Linked DNA regions of Homo sapiens. The protein of the gene in region 1 interacts with the protein of each later gene in a pairwise test. Each region holds a gene or a part of one and is shown on either strand. Other genes may lie near its edges.

The links.
Region 2: the proteins of LMOD3 (region 1) and KLHL40 interact in a two-hybrid assay, tested with the Homo sapiens proteins (one large-scale study listed by BioGRID).

Annotation. Positions count from the first base shown.
Region 1 is NC_000003.12:69,116,041-69,119,865, reverse strand, and holds part of LMOD3 (leiomodin-3), read left to right. Parts: coding exon 1-1,167; intron 1,168-3,825. UniProt on the Homo sapiens protein: Essential for the organization of sarcomeric actin thin filaments in skeletal muscle. Increases the rate of actin polymerization.
Region 2 is NC_000003.12:42,690,604-42,693,182, reverse strand, and holds the end of KLHL40 (kelch-like protein 40), read right to left. Parts: intron 2,325-2,579; coding exon 2,178-2,324; intron 1,302-2,177; coding exon 1,190-1,301; 3' UTR 639-1,189; downstream 1-638. Other genes in the region: HHATL (protein-cysteine N-palmitoyltransferase HHAT-like protein), read left to right, coding at 1-106, 308-432. UniProt on the Homo sapiens protein: Substrate-specific adapter of a BCR (BTB-CUL3-RBX1) E3 ubiquitin ligase complex that acts as a key regulator of skeletal muscle development.

The DNA.
Region 1 (3,825 bases):
GAAGAGAGTGAAGAAACGAACAGAGAAGAGGAAGGCAAAGCAAAGGAACAAATTAGAAATTGTGAGAACAACTGCCAGCAGGTAACTGACAAAGCATTCAAAGAACAGAGAGACAGACCAGAGGCCCAAGAACAAAGTGAGAAAAAAATATCGAAATTAGATCCTAAGAAGTTAGCTCTAGACACCAGCTTTTTGAAGGTAAGTACAAGGCCTTCAGGAAACCAGACAGACCTGGATGGGAGCTTGAGGAGAGTTAGGAAAAATGATCCTGACATGAAGGAACTCAACCTGAACAACATTGAAAACATCCCCAAAGAAATGTTACTGGACTTTGTCAATGCAATGAAGAAAAACAAGCACATCAAAACATTCAGTTTAGCCAATGTGGGTGCAGATGAGAATGTAGCATTTGCCTTGGCTAACATGTTGCGTGAAAATAGAAGCATCACCACTCTCAACATCGAGTCCAATTTCATCACAGGTAAAGGGATTGTGGCCATCATGAGGTGTCTCCAGTTTAATGAGACGCTAACTGAGCTTCGGTTTCACAATCAGAGGCACATGTTGGGTCACCATGCTGAAATGGAAATAGCCAGGCTTTTGAAGGCAAACAACACTCTCCTGAAGATGGGCTACCATTTTGAGCTTCCGGGTCCCAGAATGGTGGTCACTAATCTGCTCACCAGGAATCAGGATAAACAAAGGCAGAAACGACAGGAAGAGCAAAAACAGCAGCAACTCAAGGAACAGAAGAAGCTGATAGCCATGTTAGAGAATGGGTTGGGGCTGCCCCCTGGGATGTGGGAGCTGTTGGGAGGACCCAAGCCAGATTCCAGAATGCAGGAATTCTTCCAGCCACCGCCACCTCGGCCTCCCAACCCCCAAAATGTCCCCTTTAGTCAACGCAGTGAAATGATGAAAAAGCCATCGCAGGCCCCGAAGTACAGGACAGACCCTGACTCCTTCCGGGTGGTGAAGCTGAAGAGAATCCAGCGCAAATCTCGGATGCCGGAAGCCAGAGAACCACCCGAGAAAACCAACCTCAAAGATGTCATCAAAACGCTCAAGCCAGTGCCGAGAAACAGGCCACCCCCATTGGTGGAAATCACTCCCAGAGATCAGCTGCTAAACGACATTCGTCACAGCAGTGTCGCCTATCTTAAACCTGTAAGTAGAAGGAGGGAGAAATGGTGACTGAGCACCCTCCATAGTAAATGCATCCCAACTTTATTCCCTCTCTGTTTTAACATAAGGGGATACTCACTAATTGAGACCAACTGGGGGAAGCCAATGAGCATTACCAATAGAACTAAATTACTGCTATCCCTAAGGATGTACACCTGTAGCACCCCATCTCTAGGTACGCCTATATGACTTCTGTAACAACGATATTAGCAGCTAACATTTAGGGAGCATTTACTATAGGCTGGAGTTGTTATATGAATTAACTCATGTAATCATCTTACTAACCCTATAAGCTAGGTACTGTTATTCTCCCCATTTAATAAAAAGGATACTGAGGCTTAGAGAATTTAATAACATGTGGAGGAGACACAGCTAGGAAGTGGTAGAGCTGACATTGAAACCCGGTTCTGAGTCTAGAGTCAAGCTTTAATTCACCTCTTCTTCTGACCTCTTCAAGTGCATATTCAAAAGAACACCATTCCAGCCACAATGGAGCTGACACTCAGAGATCCCTAGGAACCTACAGTGAGGAATAAATAAGAATGAGGCCAGGCCGGGCGCATTGGCTCACGCCTGTAATCCCAGCACTTTGGGAGGCCAAAGCAGGTGGATCACAAGGTCAAGAGATCAAGATCATTCTGGCCAACATGGTGAAACCCCATCTCTACTAAAAATACAAAAATTATCTGGGCATGGTGGCGGGCACCTGTAGTCCCAGCTACTCAGGAGGCTGAGGCAGGAGAGTCACTTGAACTTGGGAGGCGGATGGTGCAGTGAGCGGAGATTGCACCACTGTACTCCAGCCTGGTGACAGAGCGAGACTCCATCTAAAAAAAAAAAAAAAAAACCACCCAAATTGGGCCAGTTGTTTGTAGATAATGGAATGCTTCCAAAATGCATAGAAACAGTTCTTTTTAGTAGATGAAGAGAGACTGTTCGAAATTGCATTTGTATTGCTCACTTTTTAGGCAGATAAATGTTGAACTTCAGGTTGGTGTCACCATGAATTCACGGAGTTTTAAAATCACTATTTCAATTTAACATTTACCATGATCCACGATTACTGCCGAGTGGAAAAGTTATTTTCCGTGCAACTTAAGTTGCAGAAATGAAGATATTTTGGTCATTATTATGATGGCGTTTATTGAGGTTGAAAGATGTGTTCAGAGGCCGCAGGTGATTGATAATTAACTATATTATTTTAAAATCTCCTGTAATATAGCCACGAGATTATGTTGGCAGAATAGTCTGTATATTATTTTGTTACACAGATTCATGTTTTTTCAAAACATGTTGAATTTTTATGCATGCTTGCTCTTTTTCTGCTTTAAAGAGCTTGATATTCTGAAATAATTGCTAGTCTTTCACATATGTATCGTCCTTATTCCCAACTCCTAGAATGGAGAATTATCAATAGCCCATTCTTCTAAATCAAAGCTGACTTTCATCTATGATTTAGAGAGGCTCTGATTCTTCCTGGAGCAGTGGCCAGGGTGAGAACGCTGGAGGTCACATGAGGTCAGACAATGGTTCTTTGCCTGCCCTTGGGCACAACATCAAGACTTTCTGCACCTGCTCTTCTCTGGACAGCCAGAACTCCCCTAGGAATGAATTGGGGTATTGTTTGAGAGAAACTAGTTCTACCACTTTTCCAGTAACTAGTCATTGGCAAAGAATATTCAAGCCACCTTGGTGGCTGTACATTCAGAAAAGAGCAGTCTGAAAAGAATGATGAGACGTCTTTTGAAAAAATCTGTGCCAAAGGTGGCATGTAAGTTCGGAGTAGAAGAGGGAATGAAGTTCAGAAGAGCATCTGAACCAACTCCCTGACTTCTGAGTGCTCTGCTGAGCAAATCCATTTTTCCTGGGTCAATTCCATTCTATCCATTCACTTATTTGTTAATCTAACAAATATATATGTCAGGCAGATGAGAAGGATTGGGGATATAGTGGTAAGTCAGGTTCAGTCTCGACCGCACACAGAGCTTACAGTGTAGGTTTAATTTTTCACCCCTCTGCCTTTTACTCAACTGAGAACACTACAGTTTTGGGTCTAGAGTCTAGGACAAAAGACATTAAAATAAATTCATGATGATAATTGCAAGAATAAAACACCCCACCAAGCACTGCATTTTTCATATTTTAATCAATTCAAAACTACTACCAATTTTAAGTGTATTTGGTGGTGGTGTTTTAAAAAAAATAATTCAAGAAAAACATGCCGCAAAGTGAACTCTGACATGCTTTTTGAATGACAATCTTGCATATCACCCTCGGTTTTGAAAGGGCTTCATTTATTCTGAAGGATTGGCAATTTCTCCTGCCTTCAGTTGCCTGGCTTGGCCTGTGACAGATCTGTTTGCATGTGTCTCAGTTACAAAATGTCACACAACTTCATCTATTCGGTCCTGGAAAACACTCGGCAAGAAAAATATGAAAATGCCTCCTTGCACTAATGAAAATTTGCTTCACTAATATCAGATTGCTTCCCAGCACTCTGTTTCTGTGCCTTTCTGCATGTACTATAAATTTCTGCTTTAAAGCCAAAACATAGTATAATCTTTTAAAAGATATTTTAATTTTTTTGTTTTGTTTTGAGGTCATTTTAGACTTACAGAAGGTCAAAAGTAGTACAAAGAA
Region 2 (2,579 bases), about 26 Mb from region 1:
GCCCTGTTTGGAGCCATGAACTTCTGGGCCATCATCATGTACAACCTTGTGAGCCTGAACAGCCTCAAATTCACAGAGCTGGTTGCCCGGCGCCTGCTACTCACAGGTGAGGGACAGGGGTGTGGGGATACAGAAGGTGCCAGGCATCAGCCTCAAGGACCGTGACCTTCCAAAATGCCTCCTATCTCCCTCATCACCCCTGGGACTCAGAAGGGAGGGCCCATCAAGCGGGGAGAGGGGTGGGAAGACAAAAGTCGCTGAGGATGCAGTGCTGCTCCTGAGCATCTATGACTCCCTCCCCACACAGGGTTCCCCCAGACCACGCTGTCCATCCTGTTTGTCACCTACTGTGGCGTCCAGCTGGTAAAGGAGCGTGAGCGAACCTTGGCACTGGAGGAGGAGCAGAAGCAGGACAAAGAGAAGCCGGAGTAGGAGGGAGCGGGTAGAGGGATGGGCTCTGCTCAGCTATTCTTGGGCCAGATGGGGCCTGACCGATAGAATAAAAGACTTTTCTACAACAGCTTGGCTGTTCCCTGACCCTTCTTCCCACAGTCCCCTGGCTCCACGTCCATAGTGGCTGAGGAGCTGGAGGCTCTAGGCCTCAGGCAGGGGAGGGTTCCCACCCATAGGGTGGAGGGGACACCAGATGGAGAGCAGAGACCATCGACCTTGGCAGCCCAACAGCAGAACACTGAAGCCCCAAGTCTTCAACACACCTGCTCACTGACTCTTGGAGCACTGATGCAGACCCTGAGCTGCTTGCTCAGAAGGCACTTTATTCTTCCTAAAGAAGGAGACATATCTGCACTGTACACTGCACTTGATGGGGATGCTCCCATCGGACAGACGAGAAGGCTGAGTCCTGTGGGGAACTTTGCCAGCACACTCAGCTAGGCTGGGGCAGGGCCAGCACACGGCCTGGGATACCGCCCTGTGGTTCTGGTTCATGGATCAAGACAACCTAGGGGGATATGGCAACACTGGAGAAGCCTCTAGTTTCTCACCCTTGCCCAAAAGTCCAGGACTAAGCAGCACTTCCCTTTCCTTGGCTGACGCAGCCCCTGAGGCACCATAACTGGATCCAGGTAGACTCTGGCCTCTCCTAGCCTCTTTTCTGGAGCCCCCACAAGGCCAGGCCAGTGAGGGTCGCAGGATGGGAGGGGTGCTTAGTTCAGTCTGCCTGAGCTGGTCACATCTTAGTCAGGCACAGCACATTGAGCCGCACTGGTAGGAAGGTGGCACCTGCTGCATAGGCGATCTCCCGCAGGACACCCTCCCATTTCTTCTCCTCCTCGTTATACCTGGGGATGAGAGAGAGTGGGGACAAGGATGGAGAGCTTGGTCAGCTGAGTCCAGAGTGGAACGCAGCAGAGAGGGGTGGCTGAGGGCACTTGGCCCATCTCTAGGGAGATCTGCTCCTGAAAATCCCCAGGCTCTGGGAAAGGAGACCCCCCACAAGACCCACCCCAAGGAACACCCACCCCACACTCCAGGAAGGGTCTTTCTCCCCAGGAAAGATCACCTCTCAAGGGGTGTTCCCATATTCCTCAAAGTTCCCCTCCAGGAAGGTCTACACTGCCCACACCACCCCATCAATGTCCTCTCCTTGAGAATTTCCATGCTCCATTTCTACTAAGTCTCACGTCTCAGCCTCCGGCAGCACTGCTCCCCAGGGGCTGCCTGCAGCAGTGCAGATGGCTGCAGGTTCAGGAAGGAGATGCCCCAGAGGCTAAAGTTTCCTTCTCCCACCCCCACAAAGGACCAGCCATAGAGAGCAATGGTTCTGAAAGGCCAGGGCTCCAACTGTTTCCCAGCCCTAGTGGCAGCCCTCCCTCCAGACCAAGCACCCGGAAGGCAGGAGAGAAGAAAATCCGGCTGCTATTTGGGCCCTGTTTCTGTGAGTCTATGACCTAAGCTTGGGTCTGCTCCCATCTGCAACACTGTTGCTGCTCCACAGTGGGGCATGGTGTCATCTGTGCAAGCCCAGACTTTCCCAACAAACTGGTGAGAAACGGCCAAGCAGGGTATGTTGGCTATTCCTCCCTACAGGACTCCCTAGAAGAGGGATCCGCTTTGCCCCCAGAGGAGCTTGCCCAGTGCCTTGGTACCCCACCATGGTGCTATGGGGTGTCAGCCTTGCTCATGATGCCCCCTTGCCTCCCCAGGGTGGGACTCACCTCCAGATGTCATTGAGCTCTGTGGGAACCAGCTCTCCAGACTCCGTCTCCAGTGTGGCAAAGCCACCAATGGCATAGAGGGTACCCACCAGGCTGACCAGGCTGAGTGAGCTACGCTCCTGTGGGAAGGCCTCGAAGGGTGCCCACCTGGGGGTGTGTGAGAAGGTGCATCATTGGGATGCCTCGGCAAGCCCAGTGACTGTCCCTGCCACCCAGCACCCACAGCTCCAACTGCAACCCTTTGCAATCCAAGTCCCAGGCACCCATGCCCCCAACCCCATTCCCCTTCCCTGTCCCTCTGGTCTTCCCTTCCTTCCCCATTCTCTTGCTCCTCCACTTTCCTTTCCTTGTCCTCTTGCCATTCTATCCAACCTGTCCAGCAAAGTCCACCATGGATCTCCC